Regions from separate parts of the Homo sapiens genome. Here all the other regions are linked to region 2. The links come from fine-mapping of genetic effects on gene expression. A gene starts in region 2. Each other region holds a variant in brackets. All regions are shown on one strand. Distances are between the middles of the regions.

Region 1 (5,957 bases), 85 kb before region 2:
TTTTCCTTCCTTTCCCGGAGTGGGACACTAGGGGCCAGGGAAAGGGGCCGCCTCAGCCCCCGCCTCCCTCTGCACTGATGTTAGAGCAGGGCCTCAGCCCACTCCTGGCTCACTGCTCTGGGGACGTTGGTTTTGTCCTCATTCTTACCCCAGAGCCCACTGATGGCAGAGCCTCTCAGTGCTCTTCGAAATTAGAGTTATCTTCAAAATACAGGTGAGAAAATTGAGGTTCTGAGAGGGGTGACGGCTTGCCCGGAGTCAGAGTGAGCTGCACCAATATCTTTCTTGAGTTCTTGTGTCAGTGGGGTTGGATTTTAGCCTTGAGGGGCAGGGATTTTTCCAAGGGGCTGCTGTGGTCCTGGGCCAGTGTTGTGCCAGGCGCCCTGGGCTGCCTTGAGGAGACACTTGTCTTGGAGGAGGCTCTGGGACGGCTGGACCTGGAGTAGTGGAGGCACTGGGATGTCTCAGGGTTTCCCTGCCTAGGTCTGCAGTGATTGCCGATGAGAGCTGCCAGGACCCTCACACGGTGGCTGAGAACCTGCTAGGAACCTGAGAGGGGCCCAGAAGGGAAGCTGGTGCTCCGTGGTCCCCAGATGGCACCTATTTTCTGTGCCGGGGAGGCTGTGAGGGTGAGGTGAGAGGAGAATGGCCCTTCAGGGAAAGGCAGCAACAGGCACAGGGCTAAATGTCACTTTTTTTTTTTTGAAATGGGGTCTCACTCTCACCCAGGCTGGAGTGCAGTGGCACAATCACAGTCCACTGCAGCCTCACAACTCCCTGGCTCAGGTGATCCTCCCATCTCAGCCTCCTGAAGCTGGGACTACAGGCTCGTGTCACCATGCCCGGCTAGTTTTTGTATTTTTTGTAGAGATGGGGTTTCACCATGTTGCCCAGGCTGGTCTCGAACTCCTGGGTTCAAGCTATCTATCCATCCATGTTGGCTTCCCAAAGTGCTAGGATTACAGACATGAGCTGCCATGCCTGGCCTAAATGTCATTTCTTCAGCCAGTGAATTGGGGTGTGCAGTGGGGGCTGGAGACAGATGGGGGTGAAGCTCAGCCCACTCTGGCTAGCCTTGGGGTGGCGGAAAGTAAGGGCCCTCCGCTGAGGATGAAGCGTGGGCAGCAGTGGTGGAAAGTGGGGTGGTCTTGGGGAAGGGACTTAGTCACCTAAGTGGGTAATAGGTGATCGCTAGGGAATAGGCCCCTGATTCCTGAGCTTAGGGGGTGGGAGACAGGTCAGGAGTGAGCAGGGACTTTGGACTCTGAGTCTTGGGTTCAAATCCCAGTCCAGCCCACACATCGCCTGTGGAATGTGCCTTCTCTGTTAATACTGAGCCCCACTGTGTGTGAGGTCTCCAAGGTGCTGGGGACAACAGTAGTTACCAAAAAGGACAAATACCTGTTAACTCAGGTGGCTGATATAGTTGTGCAGGAGACAGTGAAAAGCCAAAACAAAAAAGTAAAATAGACTGTAGTTGGGATGGTAGCCAGTGCTGTGGATCAAATAAAGTAGGGCGAGGGGGTGAGAGGTGTGGCCAGGGCGGCTGCTGCAGCCAGGGTGGCCTTGGGAGGCTTCTCTGAGGAGATTACTCCTGAGCGACAGGAAGTGCTGGAGGAAGTGCGTTCCAGGCAGAGGGGCAGTAGGTGCAAAGGCCCTGAGGCACAAGCCTCCCTTAGCTGGGAGCCCCAGGAGGATCCTGAGCAGGGGAGGGACAAGGATCTGGCTGTGGCTTTCATAGGATCCCTCTGGCCTCTGTGGGAACAGACTGTAGTGAGTACCAATCCAGGCACGTGACGGTGGGGCCTGGAGCAGGGAGGGAGGTGACTTCTGTGTGTTTTGAAACTGAGTTGATGGGGCTCAGAAATGGACTGGACGTGGGGTATGAGGGAAGCAGATGCTGGACAGTGCATGTAACCTCCTTTCCTCGTTTGTAAAATGGGAAGGCTGTGGGGATTTGCGATGCAGTGTCCCGTCTCTGGACCCTGGTTGTAGCGAGGGACTGGCTAGACAAGGTCAGGTGCAGCAAGGGCGTGGTATTATTGGTGGGAGAGAGAAGCCCCAGCCAAATCGCCAACTCTGTCCTTAGGTGGGCTTACTGTCCCAAGGGCCCAGATGAGAGACTGAAGCTTGGAGAGTACTGAGTCTTGGAGAGTACTGTGACTTGCCCAAGGCCAGACAGCTAGGCCGTGACCAAACCAGCTGCCCAGAGGGCTCAGTCCCCACCTGGATGGGCAGAGGCAGGCAGGGAGGGAGGTTCGCGTTACAGGCTGGGAACTGGGGTTTCTTACAAATGTGCATCTTCCTGAGGCAGTGGGTCAGGAATTACCAGTGGTAAAAGTGAAAAATAAATAACAACAACAAGATAAAAGGAGTTACCAGTGGCCCACGTGGGTGTCCTGCACTGGTGTTCAGGATGGGGCTGGAGCTCAGCTGTGCAGGCTTCCCAGGGAGGGCACAGCCAGGCCAAAGACAGGAGACTGGTGCAGAAAGGGTGTGCTGTGAAAGGGGCAGGGGAGCGGGTGGGGAGCTGTTTCATCGACACTCTGGGCACACAGACCCCCTTAACACCATCTCCGCCCCTGATGGTTATGGGAGTCATGTTGCCCAGCTGTTGGCAGGTGGGGAGGTGGGAGGATGCCTTCGGGGTCCAGGCAGAAAGCTACCCCTCTCTGGGCCTCTGTCTCCCTGTGTCTGGGAGGAGTCAAAAGCCTCTGCCTAGCTGATCCTGGATGTTGTCCCTTGACCTCTGACCTCCACTCAGGCCTGTGTTTGGGGAGTGTCATGGTCATCTTGCGGGACTCCTCCGCAAGCTTTAGTCTGTGCCTCTAAAAATGGGGTGCAGAGCCCTTCATGGAGCAGGTGGGGCCTCATCAGTGCCTGCACCTCTGTGAGCCTTGCTTCACCTGTTTGTTGCTGGAGCCTCCATGCAGTGGGGCCCACATGAGCCTGTGTGCATTG[A/G]GGGGCACAGGGGCTTGGCAAAGGGCGGGCCTCTGTGGACTATGCACGCGGTACAGTCATGGTGGAGGCTAGGGGTTTAGCCACCTCCCCACCAACTGGAGGCATGATAACCCATTTCACAGTTGAGGACGCTGAGGCACAGAGCAAGTAGACCTGCCTCCTACCCCCAGTGTGTCAGCTGCAGACCCTGGAGGCTGCCTTGGGGTGGGCCTCAGGGTGGGCCATGGCAGAGGTGCCTGGGAGTGCTTACCCCCAGCAGCCCTCCCCTCCTTGCAGACTGTGGAGCATGGCTTCCCCAATCAGCCCAGCGCCCTGGCCTTCGACCCGGAACTTCGCATCATGGCCATCGGCACCAGGTCTGGGGCTGTCAAGATGTATCCTTTGCAGGACAGGTGTTCAGGGTCTGTTCAGGACCACCTGCCTGTAGTTCCCTGTGCTCTGGGGTCCCAGTCTTGGCAGTGTCCAGCTCGAGAGGAGGACAGAGGTGCTCTGATGGGCAGTAGTGGGGGCTTCTGCGGAGGTTGGCGTGGCTTCTGTACCTGAGACAACTGTGCAGAGATGATGGGGTCCTTTTGCTGAGAGACGGGTGGTGGGGGGTCAGTTTGCAGTAGCACAGCTGTCCCTTGCTACGTGTCAGCCAGCCAGTTACCTAGGCGACCCTGCCATCGTCCCAGCAACTCTGGGGAGGCCAGGCAGAAGGCTGGGCTATGATACCCATGGAGGGTGGCAGGTGGGCTGGGGGCCCTGGTGAGCTGATGCACACATGTGTGAATGTGAAGACACATGTGTTCAGCAAAGGGGCCTGGGGGCAGTGCCAGGCTCGGCATGGTGAGCACAGCACGGCCCCCACCTGGATACTGGCTGCTGCACAATGGGCTGTGTGAGCCACACAAAGCGGGCATTTTCCCTGCAGGCCTGGGGTGGGGGTGGGGGCAGGCCGGCAGCTCAGTGTCTCCTTGCCAGCCCTGGAGAATCCCACCCCAACTGCTCTTGGGGAAGCCGAGGTGCCAGGGTCTGGCTGATGGCGGCTTGGTGAGGGGTGCTGACCCCTACCCCTCCTGTGTGGCCTTCTGGGTTTCAGTATCCTGGTTTCAGACATCAGTTCCCAGAAAATGTGTCAGTGCTGGGAAAGGGGAGGGTGTGGGATGGGGGTCTCCTCACCCCAGGACTGGGGGCACTGATCAGGCAGGGATGGGACTCTGAGCCTGTGGTTTGTGAGCTCTTTGCCTACTCTGGGGAGTGTGGATGGGCTGAGATGTCCCCTTCTCTCCCATGGCCCCAGCGGCCTCTGTTGGTGAGTGTGGCAGTGCTCTGGGCCCCACATGCTCCGCTGCCTGGCCTGCTGCTCCCACTCCTGTGGGTGCTGCGCTGCGTGCGCACATGTGTCCCTGCAGCCTTCAGGTGTCCCTCCTGTGTTGGGGTCTCCAGTGCACTTGTCCTCAGGCTCAAAAAGAACCTGAAGTGCAGATGAGGAGACTGAGCCTCAGAAAGGAGGCTGGAGCCCGGGGTCCTCTTCCCTTTTTCCCCTGACTGCCACTGCCTGGAGCCCCTTGGGTTGGGAAACTGAGGCTGGAGAGGGCCAGCCCTGGTCACTAGAAGCTGCCCCTCCCCCTGCCAGGCCAGCCCCATCTCCTTGACGACCCTGGTTCCCGCCCAGCTGCTCCTGTCCCCTCTTTTGTCCCTTCTTCGGAGTTTCTCGCCAGGCTCCTGTAGGGAATCTGAGCTCAAGCTCCAGGCAACGGCTCCTGTGTTGTCACCGGGGCAACGTTGCTGACTCCTCCCTGCACCCTCTGTCATGGGGCCCCCTCAGGCCCTGCTGTCCACCATCAGCCCTGGAGTTGCCGGGACTCAGGCACTGACACTGGGCACTTCAAGCAGGTCATCCACCCCCTCCAAGTCTGTGTGCTCATCTGTGAAATGGGCAGGCTGGAGTCTCTCCTCCCTCATGATGGCAGTTGTTGGCTGCCTGCTTTGGAGGGAGGTGGGTTTTTTTTGTTTTGTTTTGTTTTTTTGAGATGGAGTCTTGCTCTTTGTTGCCCAGGCTGGAGTGCAGTCGCACAGTTTTGGCTCACTGCAACCTTTGCCTCCCGGGTTCAAGCAGTTCTCTGCCTCAGCCTCCCAAATAGCTGGGATTACAGGTGCCTGCCAGCATGCCCGGCTAATTTTTGCGTTTTTAGTAGAGACGAGGTTTCACCATCTTGGCCAGGCTGGTCCTCAACTCCTGACCTTGTGATCTACCTGCCTCGGCCTCCCAAAGTGCTGGGATTACAGGAGCGAGCCACCGTGCCCAGAGGAGGTGGGTTTTCTTACCCATGGCTGAAGTTTGGCCTGAAGCTGTGGGAAAAGGCAGCCTGGACTCTTCTGCCCCCTGGCTTTCTTGTCCAGGCCTGGCCTTGCACCTCTGGCCTGCCTGATCCCATCCGGCAAGGCGCAGCTCCCAGAACCCATAGACACACGGAGCTGAAGTGGAGCGGAGCCCCATCCTCTCACCAGGCTGAGGCCAAGCCTGCTGGGTGTGTTTATTCTCACTTGATCTGCAACAGTCCTGTAAAGTGGGAGTCACTGGCCCAATTTACGGGAAGTGAAGGTCCTATAGCAGCACCTGACTTGCAGGAGTGAGTGGAGCCTGCACACTGATCTTGGGGATACTGTAGGGGTGCAGAGTGGGAGCTTTAGGGAGGGGGCCTCCGTTCTTCAGGGAGGACTCCTGGATGGTCAGGCCCATGCCGGGGCCCACTGGAATAGTCCGGGTCAAGGAGGAGCCTTGGGTGTCTTCCTCACTGTGGTTTGCTGGTCTATGCCTATTTCCACCTTGACCTGCCACCCTCAGCTATGGTGCACCTGGCGTGGAGTTCACAGGCCTGCACCGGGATGCAGCCACTGTCACACAGATGCACTTCTTGACCGGCCAGGTGAGCCTCTGCTTCCCACTAGCCAGCTCCCTGTGGCCCCCATATCTACTCATCCCCCTAGGCCAGCCTAGTTTTCATCTCTGC
Region 2 (5,873 bases):
GTTTTGCCATGTTGGCCAGGCTGGTCTTGAACTCACGACCTCAGGTGGTCTGCCCGCTTGAGCCTCCCCAACTGCTGGGATTACAGGCATGAGCCGCTGCGCTCAGCCCAAGTATTAATATTTATTGAAAGTTTCCTGCATTCCAGACACCATATTAGGCGTTAGGACATAGCAATTAACAAAATATAATCACTGTCCTTTGGAGTTTAGAGTCCAAGGAGAGGCAGTGACAAAAATCAAATAAATGATCGCACATCCCATTATTTAACTGTAACTAGTAGATGCCTTTCAAGTAGAATAGAGTGCTATGACAGCATGTCAGTAAGGGTCTCTGACCTAGTGTGGGGGAACAGGTGGTGAGGGAAGGATTCCTTGAAGATGAGACATTTCAGCAGCCTCTCTCCTCTAGCCGCCCCAGATGCCAAAAGGAAAGATGGCCAAGGGGAAGAAGTGGCCCTGGCCCCTGTTGTCATGGAGCAGCAGTAGGCCAAAAAGGTGGTAAATCCCATTTGAGAAAAGCCCTAATAATTTTGGCATTGGATATCTAGCCTAAGGGCCTCACCCACTTTGTCAAATAGTCCCGCTATAAATGGCTGCTGCGGCAGAGCCGCTGTACTCTATAAGTGGCTGATGTGCCACCTGGGATTGACCAGTTCACCCAGGCCTCAGACTACCAAACTTAAGCTACTCAATTGCTTAAGCTGGCCCACAGTACAGACAAGAGACAGAGCAAGGGATGAGATCGAAACCGTTGGCCCAGGCTGAGAAGAAAGCTTCCAGCAAAGGGGATGTCGCTACTAAGAGACCACCTACACTTCGAGCAGGGGTTGACACCGTCACCAACTTGGTAGAGAGCATGAAGGGTCAGCTGGTGGTGGATCCCATTGAGCTGGTTGTCTTCCTGCCTGTGCTGTGTCCTAAGATGGGGATTCTCTACTGCACCGTCAAGACTGTGGTGTCAAATTCCACAGGAAGACCTGCACCACTGTCACCTTCACAAAGGTTAACTTTCTGGTAGACAAAGGAGCTCTGGCTAAGCTGGTGGGACAAATTACAACGACATATGAGATCTGCTGTCACTGGGGAGGCAATGCCCTGGGTCCAAAATCTGTAGCTTGCATTACCAACCTAGAAAAGGCAAAGGCTAAAGAATTTGCCACTAAACTGGGTTAAGTACACACTGTTGTGTTTTCTGTACATAAAAATAAAAATTCTCTTTCCAAGAAAAGTCTTTCCTTTTGGCTGGAACTGCCATCTTGGAGTAATTTGCCAAAATGACGAACACAAAGGAAAAGAGGACGAGGCATCTGATGTATGTTCTCCTGGCCTTATAGAAAACATGGAGTTCGAGCTGGGCACGGTGGCTCACGCCTGTAACCCTAACACTTTGGGAGGCTAAGGCGGGTGGCTCACCTGAAGTCAGGAGTTCAAGACCATCCTGGCCAACACAGTGAAACTACTAAAAATACAAAAAATTAGCTGGGCATGGTGACAGGCACCTGTAATCCCAGCTACTAGGGAGGCTGAGGCAGGAGAATCGCTTGAACCCGGGAGGCGGAGGTTGCAGTGAGCTGAGATCACACCATTGCACTCCAGGCTGGGCAACAAGAGCAAAGCTCCATCTCAAAACAAACAAACAAAACAAAACAAAAATATGGAGTTTCTCTGGCCACAGACACCAGAATCTACAATGAAGGTGATATTGAGGACTTCGTGAGAATGCATACTGTTCAAAAGGGAATGACCCACAAATGTTACATGGCAGAACTGGAAAAGTCTATGTTACCCAGCATGCTGTTGGCACTGCTGCGAACAAGGGCTAGATTCTTGCCCAAAGAATTAATGTTTCTATTGAGCATATTAAGCACTCTAAGAACCAAGATCTTTCCTGAAATGTGTGAAGGAAAATGATCAAAAAAGAAGCAAGTCAAAGAGAAAGGGTTCACCTGAAGTGCCAGCCTGTTCCATTGAGGGAAGTACACTTTGTGAGAACCAATGGAAAAGAGCCTGAGCCGCTGGAACCTATTCCCTATGGATTCATGGTATGATAGGGTAAAAATAGATAAATACAAGACCTCTGGATTGCTTAAAAAAAAAAAAAAAAAAGGGAGAGAGAGAGAATGAATTCAGCAGAGCCTTGAAGGATAAGAAGTTAGGCGTAGGAGAACCATTTTTCAATGTCTACTTCATTGTCTAGAAGTAGACAAACCTTGGGGCTGGTCACCAGGACTTCTAGCACTGGAAACAGGTAAAGCTGTCAGCCAGCATTCACACAACCCTGGCTCCACTCCCACTATCCTTGATCTGGAAACAGGTCTTAGGACCCTGGGAACTAAAGAAAAATGAGCAGGGAACTTCCACCCATGCTCTTAGAAAAGTTCTCCAGAAAACCATTTCAGGATCTACTTTTGTTATCTGAGATATTTTCCTGGACAGCTCTTTATGTCTCCCGTGGCACCTCCTTTATGAAACTTTTTCTTATCCTCCCTTGCGTTTGTGCCTCCCGTGTGTGTAGAACACATTCTTACCACTTACCTCTCTCAGAATCAGTTCATTCGGGTAGGAACAGGGCTGACTTCAAATCTAATCCCCAAACCTTACCGTGTTGCTGTAAGTGTGCACTGTGAGGCTGGAAAGTCACAAGGGCTGTAGAATGCAGTGGCTGTGGCACAGGATGGGGAGGGCTAGGTTGGCTGGGGAACGATCGGGCAGGGCTTGAATGCCAAGTTAAGGGAATCTGGTCAGTAGTTCCCAAATGAATTTCTGAATCTCTAGGGAAAAACAGTAAAATACACACTTCCCCAGCCTCACACAAGACCCGAAGGGCAGCCAGCGCCCGAGGCGATTCCGAGAATCAGACAAGTTTGGGAACCTGCTAAGCGCAAGCAAAACAAAAGGTTTCCACGCAAATGAGTGAGATGTATCAACTACGTTTTAAAATGCACTCCAGTCCGAGAGCAGACAGGAGGCCACTGCAATAATCCAGACGAGGGGCAGTGAGGCCTGAGAAATGGGAGATAATCGCCTTCATCTCGATTCTTGGCGCCCACCACGCTGTCCCGCTCGGTGGGCCTCCCTTAAGGCACGCAGCTGATCGGAACGCGCTTTCTTACCCGCCTCATGCGACCGTTTGACAGCAGGTCGGCGATCCCCTTGGCCGCGTCGTTTTTTTCGGCCACACAGAGGACTTTCCGCACGCCTCGGAGGGCCATCTCCATGGCGGCGCGGGAAAAGGCACGGTCTTCGGGCCGTCGCAGCCACCGGAGCGCGTAGCGGGCGACAGGAAAGATCATCCTCAGACCTCGCGCCCGGAGCCGCTCCCCGGCTGCCGGCGCATCCTGGGGAAGCCAGAGATGAGGCTCAAATGGCGCCCACCGAAAGGGAACCAGAGCCTCGCTTCGGTCACGTCCCCACCAGCCTGCTGGCCTTTGGAGCTTCAGTCACTGAGCCTTTCCCGTGCCGCAGCCGCCGCCTCAGCACCGAATCCAGTATCTTGGCGTGGAACTTCCGCCCGCCTTCTCCAGCTACTTCCGCCAGGCGCGCGCCCCACAGCGACCTGGAACTACAACTCCCAGACTGTCCCGCGCCCCTCGTCCAAGCACGTTCCCCTCTGCCACCTTCCCGCCGCCCCCGTCTCACTCCGCCCCTCTTTCCCCTCCTTCCCGGCAGTGGTTGGTTAATCGGACTCCTTCTTGCGGGGAGCCGCCAGACACTCCCATCCAAGGCCTCTTTCTCATGACTTTTTAATCTCCTGCTCGGAAGTCTACGAGGACGCTTCCGGGTCACGCGGCGCGGACACCAGGAGTCATGTGATGTCAAGATGGCGGCGCCGCGGTAGCAGGATCCGGGTTGTGGCGTCCTAGGAGCCGCGACGGTTTCTGCCCTCGGGCAGTGAGGGGCAGCAGCGCTTGGCTGACCCCTGCGGCGTCCCGTAGCCTCGCGTTAAGCCTTGTTCAGAGCGGGGGCTTTTGCTGTCGCAGTGGGTTCCGGAGAGTGCAGGTGATTTCGCAGCAGGTTTCTTGTGCTGGCCGCGCTCGCCGGACGAAGAAGAGAAGGGCAGTTGGGCCTGCGGCCTTGGCGTTCATGAGGCCTCAGAGAGCTCCGGAGGAGCTACAACTGTGAGGGGGCTGCTAGAGTTCTTCTCCTCGGGTGTGTGAGAAGCAGCCTAGGACCCCGGGTTCGGGGAGTCGCAAAGAAGGCCGTAAGGGCTTCACTTCCTTCTCCGGAGGCCTGCCTTCTGCGCGTCGATTAACACCGCATTCTTTCCCACTTCCTCTCAATGTTTTCTTCATATATCTGGAAATATGATCAGCGCCCCTGACGTAGTGGCCTTCACCAAAGAGGAAGAGTATGAAGAAGAGCCTTACAATGAGCCGGCCCTGCCTGAGGAGTACTCGGTGCCGCTCTTCCCCTTCGCCAGTCAGGGTGCTAACCCCTGGTCAAAACTGTCCGGGGCCAAGTTTTCGAGGGACTTCATTCTTATTTCCGAGTTCTCTGAGCAGGTGGGACCCCAACCCTTACTGACCATCCCCAATGACACCAAAGTTTTTGGCACTTTTGATCTCAATTACTTCTCCCTGCGTATCATGTCTGTGGATTACCAGGCTTCCTTCGTGGGCCATCCTCCTGGATCTGCCTACCCCAAGCTGAACTTCGTGGAGGACTCCAAGGTGGTGCTGGGAGATTCTAAGGAGGGCGCCTTTGCATACGTGCACCACCTTACCCTATACGACCTGGAGGCCCGTGGCTTCGTGAGGCCGTTTTGCATGGCTTATATCTCTGCAGACCAGCATAAAATCATGCAGCAGTTCCAGGAGCTTTCAGCCGAATTTTCCAGAGCTTCTGAGTGCTTGAAGACTGGCAACAGGAAGGCATTTGCTGGGGAACTTGAAAAAAAGCTGAAAGACTTGGATTACACCAGGACAGTGCTACACACAGAAACGGAGATCCAGAAGAAAGCCAACGACAAAGGCTTTTACTCATCTCAGGCAATTGAGAAAGCCAATGAACTGGCCAGTGTGGAGAAGTCCATCATTGAACATCAAGACCTGCTGAAGCAGATCCGCTCATACCCTCATCGGAAGTTGAAGGGGCATGATTTGTGTCCTGGTGAGATGGAGCACATCCAGGATCAGGCCAGCCAGGCATCCACTACCTCTAACCCTGATGAGTCTGCCGACACAGACCTTTACACCTGCAGACCAGCCTACACCCCAAAACTTATCAAAGCAAAGTCCACCAAGTGTTTTGACAAGAAGTTGAAGACCTTGGAGGAGCTCTGTGACACTGAATATTTCACCCAGACCCTGGCTCAGCTCAGCCACATTGAACACATGTTCAGAGGAGACCTGTGTTACCTCCTGACCAGTCAGATTGATAGAGCACTTCTAAAACAACAGCATATAACAAACTTTCTCTTTGAAGACTTTGTGGAGGTCGATGACAGGATGGTGGAGAAACAAGAAAGCATACCCTCTAAGCCCAGTCAAGACAGGCCGCCTTCCAGTTCTCTAGAAGAATGCCCAATTCCTAAAGTGTTAATTAGTGTTGGTTCTTACAAGTCCAGTGTGGAGTCTGTGTTGATCAAGATGGAGCAGGAACTGGGAGATGAGGAGTACAAGGAAGTGGAAGTGACTGAGTTGAGCAGTTTCGACCCCCAGGAAAACTTGGACTACCTGGATATGGATATGAAAGGGAGTATCAGCAGTGGTGAAAGTATTGAAGTTTTGGGCACGGAGAAATCCACCTCCGTGCTTTCTAAATCTGACAGCCAGGCAAGCCTCACAGTACCATTGAGCCCCCAGGTGGTCCGGAGCAAAGCAGTCAGCCACAGGACCATCAGCGAGGACAGTATTGAAGTCCTCAGTACCTGC
Region 3 (5,822 bases), 37 kb before region 2:
GTCCTTCTCAGGACGTCTATGAGAAGCCCTGGGCAGCCTGGACAGGGACTGCCCCATGAGTGCTGGTGGCTCACTTGGGGCTTTCTGCAGGTGAAGGAAGCAGCCCTGGGAGCTTCTTCCTTTGGCACACAGTGGGCTTCAGCTGGGACTGCACCAATCCTCTGCTAACAGCAACCATCCTTGGGGGGTCCGAGGGAGCAGCTGCGTGACTTTTCAGCAGTGGCTATGGTCACTCCTGAGGCCTGGGAAGAGGGTCACTGTCCAGCAGAGCTGGCCTGCTCCAGAGTGATCTGGACCTTGTGCCCCTTAACACAAGAAGGCCCGACTCCAAAGGCCAACACTGTCCTCTAAGTTTCCAGGACACTAAATGGCCACTTGGTCCTGGTTAACTCATTTCTAAACACAAAGGGGACAGGTCTGAGAAAGTGGCGTTCTCTACCCTACCCTGAGCTCATCTGTTCTGAGGACAAAAGGGACGGGTGTGTCCAGGCTGGTGGCAAAGGCTGCATTTCCGGGGTTTCTTTGCTGTGGACCCCATGTCTGAGGAACTGGCCCGGGGCCTTTTGCTTCTGGCTTCCGACTCCAGGGTTCTTCCTCTGTCTCCTGTCCAGGACGGGGCTCCAGAAGTCCCTGTCGGGAGAGTCAGGGGAGGGGTGAGGTTAGAACTGACATGCAGAAGTGGCAAGTCCTGAACACGGTGGCTCATGCCTGTAATCCCAGCACTTTAGGAAGCTGAGGGAGGAGGATTGCTTGAGCCCAGGAGTTCAAGATCAGCCTGGGCAACATGGTGAAACCTTGTCTTTAAAAAATGCAAAAATTAGCCAGGTGTGGTGTATGCCTGTGGTCACAGCTACTCGGGAGGATGCCTGAGCCTGGGAGGCTACAGTGAGCTGTGATCACACCACTGCACTCCAGCCTGGGCAACAGAGCAAGACCCTGTCTCAAAAAAAAAAAAAAAAAAAAAAAGAGCAGCAGACGATAAGGCTGAACCAACTTTTTTTTTTTTTTTTTTTTTTTTTGAGATGGAGTCTTCGCTCTGTCACCCAGGCTGGAGTGTGGAGTGCAGTGGCGTGATCTCCACTCACTGCAAGCTCCACCTCCCGGGTTCACGCCATTCTCCTGCCTCAGCCTCCCGAGTAGCTGGGACTACAGGCACCCGCCACCACGCCCGGCTACTTTATTTTTTGTATTTTTAGTAGAGACGGGTTTCATCATGTTAGCCAGGATGGTCTCGATCTCCTAACCTTGTGATCCGCCCGCCTTGGCCTCCCGAAGTGCTGGGATTACAGGCGTGAGCCACCGTGCCCGGCCTTTTTTTTTTGAGGTGGAGTCTGGCTCTGTCGCCTAGGCTGGAATGCAGTGGTGCAATCTTGGCTCACTGCAAGCTCCGCCTCCCGGGTTCACGCCATTGTCCTGTCTCAGCCTCCCGAGAGTAGCTGGGACTACAGGGACCGACCACCATGCCCGGCTAATTGTTTGTATTTTTAGTAGAGACGGGGTTTCACTGTGTTAGCCAGGATGGTCTCGATCTCCTGACCTCGTGATCCACCCGCCTCGGCCTCCCAAAGTGCTGGGATTACAGGCATGAGCCACCGCGCCCGACCGGCTGAATCAGTTTTTATACAGCCATGTACACCCCACCAGCCAGCCTCCCTTCACACTGTGTCCAACTCTGTAAGGTTGAGGTGCGATGTGCCTGCTGCCTTATGTTACCTGACACCTCTCCCTCAAGAATCCTAAGCTTTGGAGACATTGTCCCACACTCACTTGGTAAGTGGACTTTCATGCCGGCCCTTTTTACAGAGGCAGAAACCCAAGCAAGCTGGCCTGTGTGGTAGGGTGGGAAAGACAAGCAGCCTATGACCGGCAACCTGCGGCCCACCTCCATGCAGGAAAGTCCAGCTCTGGATCCCTTCCTGTCCCCTCAACAGGCCTTTCCAGACCAGCTGCTCATTTACCCAGGACAGTCAGTCAGCCAGCCTGGAGGTCAGATACCATGTCCTTCCAAGTGGGGAGACAAGAGGCCAGACTGCATCTCACTTCAAATGTGGGTCTCTCACTGCAATGGCCATCTCTGGGCCCCATTAGCACTGGTAGCCAGTTCCAAGTCCCACAGTTTTTACCAAACCTCTGGTTTCTTTCTGTGCATGCCGGGCTAGTGACACATGTGTAAGAATCATAGTCTGAGACTAAACTCCTTTCTAAAACAGGAACCCTATGAATGTAGGCAGGGACCATCTTGTTGAGCAAACTTGAGGCAGAGAGGCTAAGTCATTTGTTCAAGGTTATACTGCTGAGCTTTGGAACCAGATTTGCTCAACTCCAAAGCTCCCACTAGGCCTTTGGGTCATTCTCAGCTACTTAAGCTCTGTTGTGCACTGGAGCAGGAGGAACCATTCAAAGTGCCTCCACGTACACCATTCAACTTGATGCAATGTCCAGGTGCCACTTCTCATGACACCCAGTTCCCGGACATTGGCCCAAGCTGTGTCACCCTGGGCAGGTTCCTAAATATCATCGGGGTTGGCATCTTCATCTGAAGAAATGAGGCTGGGCCAGGCACGGTGGCTCACGCCTGTAATCCCAGCACTTTGAGAGGCCAAGGCAGGTGGATCACCTGAGGTGGAGTTCGAGACCAGCCTAACCAACAGGGTGAAACCCCCGTCTCTACTAAAAATACAAAATTAGCTGTGCGTGGTGGTGCATGCCTGTAATCCCAGCTACCTGGGAGGCTGAGGCAGGAGAATCATTTGAACCTGGGAGGTGGAAGTTGCAGTGAACCAAGATTGCACCATTGCACTCCAGTCTGGGCAACAAGAGCAAAACTCAGTCTC[C/CA]AAAAAAAAAAAAAAAAAAAAAGAAATGAGGCTGATGCTTATGGTCTGCCAAGGGTCACGACAGCTGCAAGGGCACATGGCCATGGGACTGGGAAGGCCTATGTACTCATCCTGGTGTCTGTTGCTATGGGACCCTGAGCAATACCCACTTCATGTGTCTGGGTCTCACCTTTCTCACTTATAAGTAAAATTGTGATCATAATGCTTACCCAATGAGGATGGAAGATGCACAGGAAGTATACTTAGCATAGTGCCAGGCATAGGGCAAGTGACACCATTACTGGTAGCTACCCTTTAATTTGGAATGAGGACTGTACAATTATCACCTTGCTGAAAGTGATCAAGTGAGGAAAAGTGAGGTGCAAGGCAGCCCAGGTGCCCCTCCCAATCCCACCATGACCCTGCCTTGCCTTCTTTCTGCTGTCCCCAGTCTCTGAGGTAAACACCTGAAAACTGAAGGCAGGGATTCCCATGCCCCTCCCTGCCTCACCTGGAGCGGTGTTCTCATCGACCCACTGGAAAAAGCCACACTGCTGCTCTCTCGGCTTGGCACATGTGTGGAACTGGCGCCCCTTGTTGGGTCCATCCTTCTGCACAGTCCGTGTGACGGAGGGCTGGCTGCAAAGGCAGGATGTGCCACTACCACTGCCATCACCAGGGTTGCCAAACCCACCTAGGTGGATCCCTGGGCCTGGTGGGCATCCCAGGGAGGCGCCCAGGGGTCTATATGCCAAGGCAGGAGGCCCTCCTGCTCCCGGATTGGGGCTGTCTGCCCACAGGAAGAAGTTGCAGCTACCTCCGTTGCACTTAAAGAACTGCCGGCCCCGGTTGGGGCCCTCCTTACGGACAGTGAGCAGCACAGCCTCCTGGCCACAGTTGCAGGTCACAGAATTGCTTTCACCAGCAGCCGTGGGTGGTGGGAGGGTCTGGGCCAGAGCCTTTGAGGACCCAGTCTGTCTGCTGTCAGCAGGCTGGGGGTGCTGGCTGTTGTCCATCCTGTTCAGGGACTGGTTAGCCTGCAGGCGGCCAGAGGGCTGGCTAGCCCTGGGGGGGCCCCCTGAAAATCTCAGGTCCAGGATCTCCCTCAGGGTGTCGTCGCATCCGCCGATGCAGCAAACAAACTCCAGAGGCATGGTCGGGGGAAGGCTACCGCGCTTAAACTTTAACTTTAACCTAGTGAGGCCAGAAGATGAGAAAAAACATTAACAACCAGATGCCAGCTTCTCCTTAGTCCAGTGAGGGCTGCTTTAGCCCTAGGCCTCTCTCCACCATTCCTTATGCATCAGGAAGCCCACACAAGTCCCCTGTGAGGCCCTCTATCAGCCCACCACAAGCCCCCACCAGTCATCACAGGAGTGGACAGTGGGAAACAGTGCAGATGAAATCTAAGATCCCAGTAATTCACTAAAATAAAAACACCTCTGAGAAGTCCCATGTCTCTGTATCAGCAGTTCTCCAAGTGTGGTTCCAGGGTGCCTGAGCCCTTTCAAGGAGAGTGCAAAACTCTTTTATAGGCCAGGTGTGGTGGCTCAAACCTGTAATCCCAGCACTTTGGGAGGCTGAGGCGGGCGGATCACAAAATCAAGAGATTGAGACCATCCTGACCAACATGGTGAAACCCCATCTCTACCAAAAATACAAAAATTAGCTGGGCATGGTGGCACGCGCCTGTAGTCCCAGCTACTCGGGAGGCTGAGGCAGGAGAACCTCTTGAACCTGGGAGTCAGAGGTTGCAGTGAGCCAAGATTGTGCCACTGCACTCCAGCCTGGTGACAGAGCAAGACTCTGTCTCAAAAAAAATTCTAAGAGGTTATGTCTATTTTGCTCTTATTCTTCCATGTGTATACAACGGAGTTTCCTGGAGGTTCCAGCACATGCAATGACTCAGCAGGCTGACTGCAGAAGCAGATACGGGAATCCAGCTCTCTTCTATTAAGCCAGACATACAAATTGCAAAATGTAAAACAATGTCATTAATGTCATTATTATTTTGCTTTTGAAAATAGGTATTTTATTACCCTAAAAAACAAGTTATTTACAGTAGTATGCAATGCATTTACTAGAAATAAATTATTAAAATTTTTTTTTTTGAGACAGAGTATCATTCTGTCGCCCAGGCTGGTGTGCAGTGGTGCAATCTCGGCTCACTGAAAGTTCTGCCTCCTGGGTTCACGCCATTCTCCTGCCTCAGCCTGCCGAGTAGCTGGGACTACAGGCGCCCACCAGTACGCCTGGCTGATTTTTTGTATTTTTAGTAGAGACGGGGTTTCACCATGTTAGCCAGGATGGTCTCGATCTCCTGACCTCGTGATCCACCCACCTCGGCCTCCCAAAGTGTTGGGATTACAGGCGTGAGCCACCACGCCTGGCCATTTTTTGTATTTTTAGTAGAGACAGTGTCTCACCATGTTAGCCAGGATGGTCTCGATCTCCTGTCCTCGTGATCCGCCTGTCTCGGCCTCCCAAAATGCTGGGATTACAGGCCTGAGCCACCAGGCTCGGCCTATTCATTTATTTCTAGAGACAGGGTCTGGCTCTGTCATTCCAGGCTGGAGAGCAGTGGTGAAATCATGGCTCACTACAGCCTAGACCTCTAGGATCAAGCGATCCTCCTGCCTCAGCCTCCTGACCAGCTTGGCCTATAGGCATATGTCACCACATCTGGCTAATTTAAAATTTTTTTTGGCCAGGTGCAGTGGCTCACATCTATAATCCCAGCACTTTGGGAGGCCAAGGTGGGTGGATCACTTGGGGCCAGGAGTTCGAGACCAGCCTGGCCAACATGGTGAAACCCTGTCTCTACTAAAAATACAAAAAGTGGTCAGGCATAGTGGTGCATGCCTGTAATCCCAGCTACTCAGGACGCTGAGGCAGAAGAATCACTTCAACCCAGAAGGCGGAGGTTGCAGTGAGTCAAGACTGCGCCACTGCACTTCAGCCTGGGCAACCCAGCGAGACTGTCTTAAAAAAAATTTTTTTTTAAATAAA

Evidence for each region. PIP is the estimated chance that this variant, and not a neighbour inherited with it, causes the effect. A credible set is the group of variants that fine-mapping cannot tell apart.
Region 1: its variant is the best candidate, but not a certain one, in a credible set for the expression of TOP3A in thyroid (GTEx, PIP 0.63).
Region 3: its variant is the best candidate, but not a certain one, in a credible set for the expression of TOP3A in whole blood (INTERVAL, PIP 0.88).

Annotation. Positions count from the first base shown.
Region 1 is chr17:18,226,704-18,232,660 of GRCh38, forward strand. It overlaps LLGL1 (LLGL scribble cell polarity complex component 1), which reads left to right. Exons shown (of 23, transcript NM_004140.4): 2 at 3,238-3,335; 3 at 5,792-5,873. Among named protein-coding and RNA genes, the nearest start is that of LLGL1, 4.0 kb to the left of the region's middle. RefSeq lists enhancers at 3,816-4,651, 4,652-5,485. The variant A/G (reference allele first, on the strand shown) is at 2,962.
Region 2 is chr17:18,311,486-18,317,358 of GRCh38, forward strand. TOP3A (DNA topoisomerase III alpha) reads right to left here and starts at 3,509. Exons shown (of 19, transcript NM_004618.5): 1 at 3,114-3,509. The coding sequence starts at 3,293. It overlaps SMCR8 (SMCR8-C9orf72 complex subunit), which reads left to right and starts at 3,808. Exons shown (of 2, transcript NM_144775.3): 1 at 3,808-5,873. The coding sequence starts at 4,305. It also overlaps the pseudogene RPL7AP65 and the pseudogene RPL21P121. RefSeq lists enhancers at 2,558-3,081, 3,029-3,118, 3,129-3,478, 3,606-4,129, 3,819-3,868 and a silencer at 3,629-3,678.
Region 3 is chr17:18,274,351-18,280,172 of GRCh38, forward strand. TOP3A (DNA topoisomerase III alpha) reads right to left here. Exons shown (of 19, transcript NM_004618.5): 18 at 3,325-4,007; 19 at 1-630. The coding sequence ends at 452. Among named protein-coding and RNA genes, the nearest start is that of MIEF2, 17 kb to the left of the region's middle. The variant C/CA (reference allele first, on the strand shown) is at 2,835.